2 separate regions of the Homo sapiens genome follow, and region 2 is linked to region 1. Evidence: fine-mapped expression QTL. Tissue or cell type: fibroblasts. Region 1 holds a variant in brackets; the other region holds the start of a gene. All regions are shown on one strand. Distances are between the middles of the regions.

The links. PIP is the estimated chance that this variant, and not a neighbour inherited with it, causes the effect.
Region 2: it holds the start of UROS, and the variant in region 1 is fine-mapped to the expression of UROS in fibroblasts (GTEx, PIP 0.92).

What each region holds. Positions count from the first base shown.
Region 1 is chr10:125,780,165-125,788,271 of GRCh38, reverse strand. It overlaps a transcript of UROS not described here. Among named protein-coding and RNA genes, the nearest start is that of MMP21, 8.4 kb to the right of the region's middle. RefSeq lists a silencer at 4,245-4,304. The variant A/G (reference allele first, on the strand shown) is at 4,182.
Region 2 is chr10:125,819,844-125,827,950 of GRCh38, reverse strand. It overlaps UROS (uroporphyrinogen III synthase), which reads left to right and starts at 4,693. Exons shown (of 10, transcript NM_000375.3): 1 at 4,693-4,922. It overlaps BCCIP (BRCA2 and CDKN1A interacting protein), which reads right to left and starts at 4,405. Exons shown (of 7, transcript NM_078468.3): 1 at 4,229-4,405; 2 at 1,286-1,360; 3 at 313-393. The coding sequence starts at 4,393. RefSeq lists silencers at 3,641-3,860, 4,617-5,046 and enhancers at 4,337-4,536, 4,080-4,765.

The DNA of each region.
Region 1 (8,107 bases):
TGCAAATGCAGTGCCCTGCAGAAAGGCTTTGGAAATCTGTTCCCAAACTTCATTCCCAAAGTTCCCAAACTTCATTCCCAACTCAGCCTGAAGTTTAGGCTAAGTTGACTGAAACCCAGACTTGTCTCTTAGTAGCATGTGGGCTGGTGGTGGGAAGGCTCTGCCCACACACCTCTGTCTCCTTGAAAGATCTGGCTGAAAGGCATTTGGGCTCCCCGTCTCTGATCTCCATTCCTCATAACCCTGAGGAGTGGACATTCCTATTGTTCCATTTTTCTGGTGAGGAAACAGACTCTGGTGAGGTGAAATGATTTGTCAGGGTCACATGCTAGTGAGTGGCAGAACCAGAACAAAATTAAAAGGCATGGACGAGCATAAGCACTGAGGCCTAGACTAATGAAATTCATCAGCCACCTCGTAGGAGATTCACACTAGTTGAGAGGTTAGAATTTGGTGATGATTGTTCTCCAAATCTTGATGTGAGTATACAGAAATTCTTTGAGAACTGTTCTAAAACGGGATTATGGTGATGGTTCCATGAAGTGACCACTTGTGTCAAGATTAAGGAAAATAATTGGGCAAGCACTGTTTCATACACGTTTTCACCATAGTACCAAAGTGAAATAGATTTGCCCAGGAACTAAGAACCTGGCTATACATCAGAACCACGTAATGTGCTTCTAAAATGAAGTAGCTCAGGCCCCACCCCCAGAGAGTCCCCTGAATTGGTTTCTAGAATAAAGCCCAAGCAGCAGGAGGTGTTAGACGCTCTCCAGGTGCCTCCAGTGTGCACCCGTGTTTGGAAACTGCTGGATTGCAGGAATGGGGTCCCCCATAGCTGGAGTGTGATCAGGAATGCCCTCATGCATGGTGAAGAGGCTGGAGAAGCAAGACAAGCCCGGAAGTGAGGAAGGAGGAGGAGAAGTCCAAGCTGTAGGCAGACAAGAGCGGGAGGGATGTGTGGGCTTCGGAAGCACACATTGAAGGAGGAGGAAAAACACCCTGTTGCAGGGCAGGGAAAATAGGTTCCTTTTCAGAGCCTCGGGGTAGGGGACAGAATCGGGGACAAAGGTTCACTAAATGTCTACATGCTAGTAAACACCACACGTGTGTCCTTTCATCCCCACACAACCCGAAGCCACCTTTTGAAGAGATGTGAGGCTATTAACAGTTCTGGCGAAGCCTTGTTTCAGATGGAGTGCGCCAGGGCGTGGTTAAAGATGGTTCTGTTTGGGATCAGGAAGGCAGGGAGCTCATACGGGGCGGGAGATGAGCAAAGCAGCAGGCGCAGTGTCCTCGACGATTGCGTGAGTCGGGAGCCTGGGCTTGCTTTGGCAATTGGGCTGGAGATTCCTGAGAACGTGAAGGCTGAGTAGGCAAAAGCCAGTTTGAAAGGGACTGTGGAGAAACCCTGGTTCTGAAGGTATTGGTGGGACAGAAGGTAAGATCTGTAATTACTCAGCTCAAGAAAGTGAAGCCCAGGGATGTCACACCTCATTTCTTCTGCTCACCCTCCCACGGGACTGCAGTTTCTGTTAAGGGCAATAATTATGTTAATCATTCTATGGCTCAGTGGCTAGATGGGAGTGAACAGAAGCTGGCATAAGGCTTTTCTTCAAAGATACAACTGCAGCATTAAACAGACCATCTGATCTCCCAGGAATCTGAGGGTCTGGGAGGTCAGTATTTTCTTAGAAGAGGTTCATGTGGCCAGGCGCGGTGGCTCACACCTGTAATCCCAGCACTGTGGGAGGCTGAGGCGGGCGGATCAGGAGTTCAAGACCAGCCTGACCAACATGGTGAAACCCCATCTCTACTAAAAATATAGAATTAGCCAGATGTGGAGGGTGCCTATAATCCCAGCTACTTGGGAGGCTGAGGCAGGAGAATTGCTTGAAGCCAGGAGTTGGAGGTTGCAGTGAGCTGAGATCGTGCCACTGCACTCCAGCCTGGGCAACAAGAGCAAAACTCTGTCTAAAAAAAAAAAAAAAAAGGTTCATGTGCAAATGTACAGCCCTATAGAAAGGCCTTGGAAATCTGTTCCCAAACTTCATTCCTACTTTTTAATAGATCCAGCTATTCCTGATGTGCTGGGAGAGGTTCAGCTTTGAGTTCGTAGATGTTCTAGGTGCCGGATTCCCAGAGTCAATGTGGGAAGCCGGGTGGAAGCCAGAGTCTCACTCGACACCCTGAGTGGCAGTAGGGCCACCCAGGACGGTGAGTGAGTCGCACCCCCCACCCTGCCAGCTCCAAACAGAGTAACGCCCCAGCAGGCTGGGTGGCCAGCCTCCTTGTGTCCTTCCTGGGGATCAGAAGGGACAGAAGGGTGGGGTGGGAGAAGACGCTCAACAGATGTGCTGCACAGGGTTTTGCCACAGTTGTGTGATCTACATTCCCTTTTTGCATCTGCTCTCACGTGCCTTCCCCTCCAGCTCCTGGATGGAGGAGAGTTGCTGAAGAAGTTCATGCAGGGAAGGAATAAAGGATCACACAGGAATTTGAGAGCCAAAGTAAAGTGCAACTGGCCCCCCAGGCCCAGAGGGGCTAGCAGTGAGAACTGAAGATGTTCCCTCTGGACCTTCCGGCCACAGCTCATTGATGGGACATGTTCTCAGACAGTGTTGTAAGTTTTGTGTGCTTTAACTCATGAGTTACACGTGGTCACTCACTTAATGAGTTAAGCGTTAATACAACTTCCCTGTGAATAGAAGGTAACAAAATAAAAACATTGTGTTGTATACAAGTCTTCAGAAAATAAGCTACCAAGAATCATTTTACTAAAAATTCTAAGGAAGTAGATGACAGGGATAGAGTCAGTGAGGTGGTCTCAATATTCATTACTCTGGAACAAGAATCCTTGATATTCAGCAAAGTACGTGGTCATTTGGAATAAGAACTACATTTCCCAGCTTCCTTCGCAGGCAGGCATGAGAGTGTGATTAAGTTGTAGCCAAGGGGATGTAGTGAGATGCACACCTCTGACATCATTCTTCCTTCTTCCTGAAATACAGATCGAAGAGCTGGAGCTCCAGTGGGCATCTTGGGCCCTGAGATGACATTGGGGAAAGAAAGTTTTCTGGAACAAGGTGACACTGTGGGCACAAAAACTATCCCAACTCTAGACTTCTTGAGTGTAAAAGACATATCGACTTCTATCTTGTTTAAGCCACTATTACTACGAGATTTTTTCTTTTACAATCAAATCTAAATGATAAAATAATCAAGTGAATTGGTAGAGTAAACATCAAGATAAACCGTTTCCGAGTTTGAATAAAATGCCCTTTTAAGAAAATCTTGGCCTGGTGCAGTGGCTCATGCCTGTAATCCCAGCACTTCAAGAGGCCGAGGCGGGTGGATCGCTTCGAGATCAGCCTGGCTGACATGGCGAAACCCCATCTCTACTAAAAATTCAGAAACTTAGCTGGGTATGGTGGTGCACATATGTAATCCCAGCTATTCAGGAGGCTGAGACAGGAGAATTGCTTGAACTTGGGAGGCGGAGGTTGCAGTGAGCCAAGATGGCGCCACTGCACTCTAGCCTGGGTGACAGAGCGAGACTCCATCTCAAAAAAAAAAAAAAAAAAAGAAAAGTTTGGTTACTAGAAGTCCCTCATATACTTACTGTTGAATCTTTTTATCAAGTTCAATTTTAAGCTGTGTATTTGCATATTATTTATAGATTTATGCCTTGTGCAATTATATAAAGTGTTTGAAAAGCAACTGAAACAACAAAAAGACTTCAGCAGCAGAATTCTCATTTTCACAAAATACTGATAAAACCTACAAAAGCTGCAGGAATGCATTTGCTTGGACAGTTTCTTTCGTTCTTACTGGTAAGCACCCTACTGCTTGGAAGGTATGCACAGTGCTTACAGGAGAAATGTAGTCTTTTATCATATTTATCTCTTGTTAAAAGAAAACCTTAGACAAATTACATTTGAGAGAGTTTAATTGAGCAAAGAATGATTTGCGAATGGGGCAGCCCCTAAACCAGAAAGGTTCAGAGAGGCTGGGGCGCTGCCTCGTGGTTGAAGATTTATGGACAGTAAAGGGAAAGTGACGTACAGAAAATGGAAGTGAGATGCAGAAACAGCTGAATTGGTTACATCTCGGCATTTGCCTTATTTGAACAGGGTTTGAGCAGTTGGCCACCTCTGATTGGCTGAAATTCAGTGATTGGT[A/G]CAAGAGTAGGTTACAGCCTGTTTACACATCTAGGACAGAGCCCAAGCTGTATCCTACAAACAGGCTGTAACCTACTCTTGTACCCATAGCTGTAACTATTTAGGTTACAGTTCACTGTATACGGAGAATTCTTTAGGCTGAACTTAAAACATGTAAGGAGGCAGCTTTAGGCTAAACTTAACACTCTGAATTAAAAGAGACTTAAACATTTCCCCTCAACATCTCATTTAATCCTCAAAATAGCCCTATCAGGTGGGTCCTATTACCTGCATTTTGGGGACAAGAAAAACTGGACTTGGAGGAATTTAATGCCATACACAAGGTTAAGTGAGGTGGAGGCAGATTGAAACTTTGCTGACCAAGGGCTGAGAGAGAGTTAGATGAGAGAGTGTTCCCACGGGAACGCTGGAGTCCACCTCCCCTTGGCGGGGCTCCCCAGGACTGCAGGACGGGGGTCATGTTCCTCGGCATGGCCTCCAAGCCCCCTTTTCAGCCTGGCTTGACTGCCCACAGCCCGTGTGTATGCGCAGCTCCAAGCTGTGGTCACTCCACCTCTCTGACATTCTGAGACCTTGTTCTTCTCAGGGTGTTTGTGGGCTCCTGAGAGCTGGACCTGTGCTTGTCTCTGCTCCCTGAGCCCCTAGCAGAGGCCTAGGACTCATAGGTGTGGGGGGTAATGATCGGAATCCTGCCTTTACCATCAGCGATGCTTTTCCCAGATAAGCTTCTCCTCTCAGCCCCAGAAGCAAATCATGAGCAATATTATTTATTTCTCAGAACATTTTACACGGTGTTTGTTAATCACCGCATTAAGCTATTGACCCTCCAATGGGCTGTAGCAACACTTTTCTCAGTGGTGAACACATCTGGAGGCAGCAGCTCAAACTCTCTTAACGGATGGGAAACTGATGCTCCGACGACAGGGTAGAGACTCCTCAGCGTCAACCCGCTTTCGGCGGCAGGACAGAAACTGGGCCTGGGCCTGAGATGGTTCCTTCCTACACCCTTCTCCAGGGTACCGTGTCCACCTCTAAGCCTCTGGACCCTCTGACATGTAACCTGTGTCCCCTCCCCAAGCCAGCAGAGAGACCCAGGCGTGGTGCGGTTATGGAAAGAGCTGGTTCTTGTTCTCAGCCTGATGGGTCCCTCAGGGGCGGCGCATGTGTAGCAGCTTTTCAGGAGTATGGGGGGTGACGGGAGCCAGGGGCCACGTGGTGCAGATGGGAGAGAGGCCAGCAGATGGGTCTAGCAGCAGTGGGTTGAGCTTTGCCGTGTAACCTCGGCGACAGGGGCTTTAATCTGCATGGAAAATTCTGCATGCTTCACACTCATGGGGCCTGTCACCAAGCTGACTCACTGAGTTACTTTACTGAGTGTTCAGCGTGTGACTAAATTTCTGGACCTGGGGAGTTCGTAACTTTTTCCTCACCTCTCACCCAAACACCCCCAAGTCCTGTAAAAATTGCATTTCCAGAGACGGAAAGGAGTCCCACGTAACCAGCCAGATCCCATCTCTGAGCCAGGCCAGACCGCTTCCTCTTCCCTCTGCGTCTGGTCTGCTTCTGGGGTCCTCTCTCTCAATGTATTAGGGTTCTCCAGAGAAACAGAACCAATGGGATAGATGGACAGAGAGAGAGAGAGAGACAGACAGACAGACAGACAGACTAGGGGGCACTTAGGGGAATTGGCTCACATAATTCTGGAGGCCGAGGAGGCCAGCATCTGTGGGCCGCAAGCTGGAGACCCAGGAAAGCCAGTGCTTGCAGTTCAGCCTGAGCCTGGAGGCTGAGAGCCGGGGAGCTGGTGGTGTGACTTCCAGTCCGCGTCTGAAGAAGGCCTGGGGAGAAGGCAGTGCGAGAAGGCAGTGCTTCTGTAAGTCCTGGGCTCTGAGGGCCTGGGAACCTGGATAGACAGGATTCAAGGGACAAAGAAGATGAATGTCCCAGCTCAGGAAGTGGGAGGATTTGCCCTTCGTCGGCCTTTTCGTTCTCCTCGAGCCCTCAGTGGACTGGATGACTCCTGCCTGCGGGTGAGGCTGGCTCTTCTTTACTAATTTAAATGCTCATCTCTCGTAGAACACCCTCACAGACACACCCAGGAACAGTGTTTTACCAGGTCTGTGGCCATCCCTTGGCCCCGTCACACTGACATACAGAATTTACCATCGTGCTTGGGAAATCTCAGCTTCTCAACTGGTGTCATTGCTGTTGCCCTGGCAGCTGCCCTGAGAAGAGCTGGGTTTGACCAGCAGACTGCGGGCATCTCCTCATCAGAAGGCCCCACTCTCAGAGCAGAACCAGTTGGGAGCTTTCTGAGGGATACCACCAGCAACGATGAGCATAATTCTCATCCGGAGGCCAGGAGGCCTGGGTGTGCCTTGGCAGAGAAGTGCAGGTGGGTAGTGAGCGGGGCCTCCCTCCCGCAACCACTGAGCAGCCTCCATGTGCATCCTTTGCAGGGAGGAACAAGCCCCAAACGCAGACTCTCATGTGTGTAAAACACAAGCAGTTCTCCCCAGGGAGGCCGAGGGTCCTATGCCGGCCCAGAGATGGGGAAAAGGGTTTATTTGTGGATGAAAAGAGACCAAAATGCAGTCTGGAAAGAAGGGAATCAGGACAGACACTGGGAAGGGTCTTTCTGTCTCAGGCACGCTATGCAGCTGGAAACAACAGGCCTGCCCTGGTGCTGATGGCATCACTCCCCAGCACCTGGGCCCCCTGAGCTCTGCTCACTTTCAGAGTCAGAACTGACCCCTCATTGAACATAAGGCTCAAAGATCTCCTGTGGGAATGACTGTTTCCAAATATTATTGTCCAACTATACTAAGAATATGCAAATCCAGGCTGGGTGCAGTGGCTCATGCCTGTAATCCCAACACTTTGGGAGGCCGAGGTGGGCAGATTGCTTGAGCCCAGGAGTTCAAGACCAGCCTGGACAACATGGCAAAACCATACCTCTACAAAAACATACAAAAATTAGCTGGGCACGGTGGCTCACACCTGTAGTCCCAGCTACTTGCGGGAGGCTGAGGTGGGAAGATCACTTGAGCCAGAGAAGTCACGGCTGCAGTTGAGCTGTGACTGTGCCACTGCTCCTCAGCCTGGGTAACAAAGTGAGACCCTATCTCAAAAAAAAAAAAAAAAAAGCAAATCCACTTTGTAAATGATGAATGTTTTAGGGGAAAAAAACTTCAGTTCTCCCGCTGACAATTAGGTTACGCATGTCATGGCTTACAGAGATTGTAGAAGCTCCAAGCCAAAGCCTTGCCCCGCCTCAGGAACGGGAGGTGGTCTGCACAGACCAGGAACCAGTTTGTGCGGGAGCCCCTGTCCCTCATGTTGTCTTTATTGTAGGTCACGTGTCTTCCTCTGACATTTTCCCTCCTAAATCCAATTGATTTCCTTGAAATCCAATTAACCTGGAGTGAGCAATTTGGTTAATCAAACATTCTCAGCCTTGAGCAGCCAGTACATTCCAAAGCTTAGTAATAATCGGAGAGAAGAATCCTCCAAAAGAAGAGCAAACATCCACATGGTGAACATACTTCCCCAAGTCAAGCACCCAAGCTGCATGAGGCCACCGCACCATAAAGTTTCTTAAAGAATAATAACTTTAGGGAACAAGACCCTTCAGTAATGAAGCCCTCAAGCCTGTGATCTCTGTCTTAGTCCATTTGTGATGCTATACCAAAACACCTGAGACTGGGTCATTTATAAATAATAAAAATTTTCACAGTTCTGGAGGCTGGCAAGTCCAAGAGCAAGACTTGATGTCTGACGAGGGCCTGGTTTCTGTTGCCAGATGGTGCCTTGAACACTGTGTCCTCATATGGCAGACGGGCAAAGGGCTGAATGCTCTCTGAAGCCTGGCTTCTAAGGGCAGGATGGTAGAGCCTTATGATTCAATCACCTCCTCAAGGCCCCAC
Region 2 (8,107 bases), 40 kb before region 1:
TGTGTTGCCCGGCTAGAGTGCAGCGGCACAAAGCTCACCATGGCCTTCAACTTCTTGGCTCAAGAGATCCTCCTACCTCAGCCACCTGGGTAAAAAGACTACAGGCATGTGCTACTATGCCCGGCTAATTTTTTGTTATTTTTTGTAGAGACAGAGTATTGCTATATTGCCCAGGATGGTCTTGAACTCCTGGCCTCAAGCAATCCTCCCACCTTTGCTTCCCAAAGTGCTGGGATTACAAGCATGGTGAGGCCCAGCATGAACAGAATAAAGAACTCATTTAATCAGAATAAACACAATTATCCTACTTACCTTAATCACACTCCCAATATGGTTCTGTTGAATTAAGAGATCTGTTAGTTCTGCAGTGTTCACAGGAGCCTTTAGAAAAAGCTAAAAGGAGGAAAAAATTATTTTAAATTAAGATCAAAGCATGATTTCTAATAACTTCAAATCCTATATTCAAATACAAACAATGAAATTTCTGTGACTTAAGATGATGATCTAGAAAAGCAACCCCAAGAGGGAAAGAAAAGCCCAGGAGAGTCAAAGAAGCTAAAGATTAGGAAATTTCAGAAAAGAAGAAGTCAGTAGTAATATAGAAGTAATGGGGGAGGGGGAGAAAAAAGGGAGAAACGAGAGAGGATAAACTTAAGGCCAAAGAATTTGGTGAAAAAGACGGTAGAGCTATAAAGGCTAAAGAACCAAAGTCATATTATATGAGTAAAAGAATAAGGAGAAGCAGCAAGCATCAATTTTATAGCACCAAACAGCACAGTTATATGACTGTTACATAAGAATTGTGAATTAAAAAAAAAAACAAAATAACTCTAATTAGCAGATGAAAGGAAATAATTCTTCCTTCCAGGCAAGGTGGAGAGGATAGAAATGGAAATTCTAAAAAGATGAACTTGGGAGAGCCTGTATTGAATGACCTGAATTTTCTTTTTTTTTAGAGACAGAGGCTCACTCTGTTGCCCAGACTGGAGCTCAATGGCACATTCATAGCTGCAGCCTTGAGCTCTTAGACTCAAGTAATCCTCCAGCCTCAGCCTCCTGAGGAGTTAGGACTAACGGTGTGTGCTACCACAGTTGGCTAATTTTTAATTTTTTTGTAGAGACAGGTTCTCATTATGTTGCCCAGGCTGGTCTCAAACTCCTGGGCTCAAGCAATCCTCTCACCTCGGCCTTCCAAAATGCTGAGATTATAGGCATGAACCACTGCACCCGGCCCCTGATTTTTCTTAGAAGAGGAAATTTATGCATAATAAATAAAAGACAATACCTGCTGCAGTAATTTCTTAATTCCGTCATAATCATTATCTGATAGGGAATAAGCTTCAAATTCAATATTCACTTCCTGTAAATAACACACAAAATAGTTGTTACCAGAAAAACTACAAACATCTAGACTTTAAAACAGGCAAACATTGCCAAGATTGCCATCTGTGAAGAATACAAAGCACCTTCACACTATTTCTTCAGGTGACACAAAAGCCTGAGAAAACAAAACACTCAGAGTAACCTAGTTTAAATGTTGAGAAAGTCCAGTTCAAATAAACCAGACACGGCAGCCACAAAGGATAAATTATTTTCCTGATTACAAGGGTGGGCAAAAATCAAAATCACTTCAAAAGTCCCTGGAATTGCCTAGAGCTTGACTTAGCCCATGGATTTGAGGTTACACTACATTTGCTTAGCAAATATTTATTAAGTATCAATCCAGGTACCAAGCACTGTGCCAGGCACTCAAGATGAAAAGGTTAGTAAGGCAGACACAAATGATCCTGCTCTCGTGCAGCTTACGATTTAGGAAGGAATATAGGCATTAAGGAAATATTCATAGAAATAAATGTAAGTGCTATAAAACAAAGGTACACAATGTTGTAACAACTTAAAAAATAAGAAGTCAGTCAGGAAAGCCTTCCTTGAAGTGACATTTGAGCAAGAAACCGAGAAACAGCAAAGAGAGTTCCTGGTACAGGGAACAGCACAAACTAAGGCCCTAAGGCAGAAGGAAATACAATGAGTACAAGGGACTAGAAGAATGAATGTGTAGCTGGGCTCCCTGATCTCTATCTGCAAGACAACAGAATCTAGAAGATGGAACTAAAATGCCAAAAACAAAACCTAGTTGCTTTTAAACACTAACAAGATTAGTCCTTGAGGACCCTAAATCAGACCTTGATAAGTGACACAATGAACCTGGGGCTCTGATGAAATAATATATTTAAAGGCACTTCAGGTTTTAACGGTTTCAGAATTTAGGTCTTAGCTGAAGAACATCGCAGAGGAAATCAGACCTCCTTTTACCTTGCCACCCTGACTATGTATATATTTAAGTCTTCCTTAATTGTAAAATTGCAAGGCCCTGGAATTGCTTAGAGCAATTCCAGCTCCAATTTGAACTCTTTAAGTCCAGCTTTGCAGACTTCAAATGCTAACTTAGCCAGATTATGTGAGCAGCAAAACACAAGGGGTCGGGTGGGAGTGTTCCAAACAGGATCAAACTAAACCAAATAACAAACTGTCATTATTCAGGACTTAAACTTATTCCTTAGATATAAATACATTCTGTAAATAATGCTCATCTAGTGTTTTTTTCTTTGTCTAGACAGACATCTCGGACCTCTGTCCCAGACTATTATGGCACCACCAGGGAAATGGGCGGCAAATGGATTATCTGTCCAGCACCCTTTTCCTGGGTATGGGCTCATCTCCACATGGCTTCAGCAGGAACAGTCACGTTTGTAGAAAAGAGCCCTGTCCCTCATTCCCAGGTGATTTAGAATTAAGACTGTGGTGGTGTGATAGATTTCCCATGTTAACACAAGCAGCATTGATTTCTATAACCCAAAAGTAATAAAAGAGCCAGTCAAAGTTCTAAGTGAAAAATGGTGAGATGGCATTCAAGGCATAGAGCCAAAGTAAAATTTGTAAGGGAAGGAAGATTGATCACATACCCACACCATGGTGTCACCTCTAATCCTGCATCCATGCTTCTCTCCATGCTCCCCTCCATGCTCATCATGACTCATGATTACCTCTCTGATTTTATTTCCTATCACTCTCTCTTCCTTATTCTGATCCAGCCATCTAGGCTGCCTTTCCGTCCCTCAATTGTGAAGACTCTTGATTTTCTTGTAAATGAACTAGAAAGCCAATGCAGCAATCTAAGCAGAGGCCTGAGATCAGACCTATAAGATCTCTCTGACTGTAAGTGGAGTATAGACTGATTGTAGGGGAACAAAAATGGAGAAAAGAACGCCGGTTAAAAGCTGTTACATTAAATAGTAGTCCAGGCAAGAGATGATAGAGGTGTGGACTACGATGGTCTCAGAATTAGTGCTGAGAAATGTCTGGATAACAGGATTTACTGATGGGCTGGATATAGGATGAGGAAAGGGAGGAATTAAAGTTAAGCCCCAGGTTTTGGGTTAGAGCAGCTGGTGACTTTAGGGGCCATTTATAGAAATGGTGACGATTAAGAGAGGGGCATGAATTATTATACAAATTCTGCTTTGGACAAGTTAAGGCTGAGGTATCTATTTAAACATTCAGTAGGCTGAAGGATCATTCAGTCCTAATTGTTTACTAAACAAATAATAAGTACCTATATTGCCAGGCACTACGGTAGGACCTAGTCTGAAGAAAGGAACACAGTTCTATGAGACTATGAAACCAAAGATTTACCCACGACTTGGTCAGCTGCCCCAGGAGCCAGAAAATACAGCCTAGCTGAGATCTGAAGAAGGAAGGGAAAACTGCAGGATAAAGAAGAGCATTTGAAAAGGCTTCTACGGTAGAACGCGGCAAGAGCCTTCAAGAAACTGAGGGCCCAAGTGAGTGCCGCCCGCAGAGTGAAGAGGAGGACAGCTGCTGCCCCGAGGGGAGAGGGCCCCCTCTGCGAGCCCGGGGTGGCCGATTCAGGATCTGAGGCTTCAGCCTGAGAACTAAAGAGGACGAGAAGAACACACCTGTTGTGGCGGGCTTTTTCGGGGAGGACGCGGGTTGGGAGATTAACTGGACCGGACTAGACCTTTAAAAAATAACTACTATGGCTGCAGTGTGTTAAAGACCGAGGAGAAACCTGAGAAAGAACTTATCTCCAGTTTCTCCTCACAGACCCTCAGGGTCAGGGAAGACCCTACACTATTTTTACACAGCCTGGGCTTGCCAAAAAGTTTTTCTCAGGTATAAACCAACTAGGGGAGCGTGTCCTTCTCACCTCGTCAATGACCTCGTCCTCTTCATCCTTTTCCTTGTCACTGTCATCATCGTCTTCATCCTCATTTTCGACTTCTTTTTCCTCTTCCTCGTCGCGCTGGACTGGGGGATCCGGCGGCTGCGGAACCCCACTTTCCACGGCACGCCGCTTAGACCTGGACGCCATGTTGCCGCTCACACTGCGCCTGCGCAGCTTCCCCTTGCCTGACCTTCCGGACCAGCCCATAGTAGCCAAGGGGGTGAGGAACTACGAAGAAGCTCGGCGCTGAGTGCACGTCAACCCCAATGCCCCTGCTGGATTCCGCAGCCATGACCCCTTACAGTCACGTCCAGCTTGCGGTCCCATCTTGCTTTTTTCTTCCGCTTTCCACCCTCCATCACTCCTCCCAAAGCTTCCCCTCCCCTTCCCGTAGTGGTTCAACCCATCTAACCTCTGGCCTCATTCCGTGGCCTGGATGGCGGTGCGCATGCGCGAGCGCCTAGCTGCGCGCAGCCACCCACGCGACCCCAGTCTGAGGTGCGGGGTCCTGGGGCCCGGCGCGGGTGGCCGCCGCGGCCCCTCGGGCTGCGTGGGGAGGGGGCTTCCGCCCCTGTTGTCATTGCTCCTGCAGCCTTTTCGCTGGGACTGCGCGACACCGCCCCCCGACCGGGTGCCCGCTGTGTGCCAGGCCGGGTGCTGGGCACGGTCCCGCGAGGTAGGTGTCGCCGCCCGCTGTACCGGTACGGACGCCGAAGCCCGCGGGCGTGCAGGGGCCCGGCCCCGGGCGGTGTGTGACACAGTGGGGCCAGGGCCCCGAGGCTTCCGCGGACCTGGGCCTGCCCAGGCGGGGATGTCCGCTGCCGCTACCGCTGCGCCGGTGACGGAAGGCGCCTGCCCAGCCTACCCTCGCCGAGCTTCTGGAGCGCATTTCTTGACCTAAAAGTTTTTTTAAAGCCGGCACCGCAGTTAAAAATGCTTCGGCGGGGGGCCGGGCCCGGTGTCTCGCGCCTGTAATCCCAGCACTTAGGGAGGTCAAAGCGGGTGGATCACCAGAGGTCAGGAGTTCGAGACCAGCCTGGCCAACATGGCAAAACCTCATCTCTGCTAAAAGTACAAAAATTAGCCGGGCGTGGTGGCGGACACCTGTAATCCCAGCACTTTGGGAGGCCGAGATGGGTGGATCACTTGAGGTCAGGAGTTCGAGACCAGCCTGCCCAACATGGCGAAATCCCATCTCTACTAAAAATACAAAAACTAGCCAGGTGTGGTGGTGCGCGCCTGTAGTCCCAGCTACTCAGGAGGCTAAGGCAGGAGAATCGCATGCCCCCAGGAGACGGAGGTTGCAGTGAGCCGAGATCGCGCCACCGCACTCCACACTCCAGCCTGGGCGACAGAGGTAGACCCTATCTAAAAAAAAAAAAAAATGCTTCGGGGCCAGTGGGGTAGTCTAGGTTAAAGACCCGAGCCTATTTGGAGAGAAGAGTGGAGGGGACTGCGGCCAACTGCAGAGCGAGCGCCAGCCCCTGTGGCAGGTGGGGATGCAGCCTGGGGCAGCCAGGTCTTCCCATTGCGAGAGAAACAGGGTTCATCAGCTTTCTAGGAATAAGATCTGCGGTTCTCAATTGATTTTTCTCTGTAAAATGAGGGGGGTGGGTTGGATATGTTTGATTCTAGGAATGGTGTGAGCTGCGCTAATAGGCTGCTTCTGTTTAAGCAGGGTAACATCTGATAAATCAGTGATCCTTCATCAGTACGAGATGGCGTGCCCTAAAGGTCCCCAGGAGCCCAGATTGCCCATAATCGTGTTCTGTGATTTCGGTCTTTCCTGGGAGTCTCTTGTCTACCCAGCCATGTCATGGATATTAAAGTAATACTTACACATCAGCGCTCCACATCTGATGGGGCAGCTTGAAATGGCCTCTTTGGGTCGCACAACTGCAAAAACATGTTCCTGTAATGGAGAAGAGAGGAAGCTGTCAAAAAAGACCCATCAAAAGGCTAAGATTAGAAAAAAGACTCAGAAAGACCATGTGAACATATCAACAGAGTTGCACTGAGATACCATAGCCAATTTTTTTTCCTGTTTCTTTATACTTTTTTTATGGTGGTAAAAGATACATAACATACATTTTACCATCTTAACTATTTTTAAAGATACAGTTCAGTGGCATGAAGTGCATTCACATTGTGCAACCATCACCACCACTATCCATTGGCAGAACTCTTTTCATCTAGCAAAATTGAAACTGTAGTTAAACAACTCCCTTATTTTCCCTCCATGACCTTTCTACTTTCCATCTTTATTAATTTGACTATTCTAGAAACCTCATGTAAGTGGAGTAACACAATATTCTTCCTTTTGTGACTATTTCATTCAGCATGATGTCTTCAAAGTTTATCCCATGCTGTAGCATGCATTAGGATTTCCTTCCTTGTTAAGGCTGAATAATACTCCATTGCATGTATAGACCACATTTTGTTTATCTACTTATCTGTCGGTAAACATTTTGGTTACTTCTACATTTTAGCTGTTGTAAATAATGTTGCTATGAACATGAGTATCAAATATCTGTTCGAGTCCCTGCTTTCAATTCTTTGGGGTATATATGTAGCAGGGGAATTGCTAGATCATATGGTAATTCTATGTTTATTTTTTTGAGGAACTATACTTTTTTGTAGTTTGCAAATCTTTCACAGTAAACAGGATCACTTTTGTAAGACAAGTAGGGGAAAAAGCCTTACTTTATGCCCTCAGATTAGTTCCCAGTGTTGAGCTCATGGTCAAAGTGTGAATTAGAATAGTGAATGTGAAAGTAAATACAGTACTGACCCTAGGGAACTGAACTCAGCAGGTAGTAGATTGCTTACCACTCGTTCAGTGTTCATCTTTAGCTCAGAATTTATCTTAATGAGGCAGAGGGATGGTAGCAAGTGGTTAGGAGACTGAGCATGGGCTTCAGACCAGGATCCAAATTCCATCTCTCCCACTTACTGTGCTGTGTGACCTGGGACAAGTTACTCAAACCTCCCAGGGACTTGGTTTCACCTCCTGCAAATAAGGCTAACACCACCTACCTTGCAGGTTTAAGTGAGGATTGCAGTCTTGCATGTAAAATGCTTAGCCCAGTGTGATAGTTACTTTTACATGTCATCTTGACTGGATCACGGATGCCCAGATATCTGGTTAAACATTATTTCTTGGTGTGTCTGTGAAGTTGTTTTCAGAAAAGATGAGCATTTGAATGGATAGACTGAGTAAAGTGGATTGCCCTCCCCAAAGTAGGTGGGCAGCATCCAGTCTGTTGAGGGCCTAAATAGAACAAAAAGCCAAAGAAGGAAGAATGTGTCCTGTCTCCTCCTGCATGCTTGATCTGGGATATCTTCTGCCCTTGGTGCTCCTGGTGCTGAGGCCTTCACACTCAGGCTGGAACCTACACCCTTGGCTCTCAGGCCTTCAGGCTACAACACCAGCCTTCCTGCTAACAAGTCTCCAGCTTGCAGACAGCAGATCATGGGACTTCTCAGCCTCCATAACTGCATGAGCTAATACCTTATAACAAATCCCTTTCTAGATGTAAATATATGCCATTGGTTCTGTTTCTCTGAAGAACTCTAATACACCCAGTAATTAACATGAGTAAATGCTCAGTAAAAGGGTGACTGTTGTTATTGCTGATACCCAGAACACCATGACATAGAAGGTACGGGTTTGAGGTTTGGTTCTTTCTTACCAGTAAGGTGCCCTTATTCCAGTCATTTTTTTTTTCTTTTCTTTTTCATCAATGATTGATGAACATAAGTATGAGGGTAAAATGGCAGAGCAAGCATTAGACTGTAAATCTAGAGACAGGTTGAGCCCTCTTTTTACCAGTGCCGAGGTGAGTTTCATGTTGGAAGCTT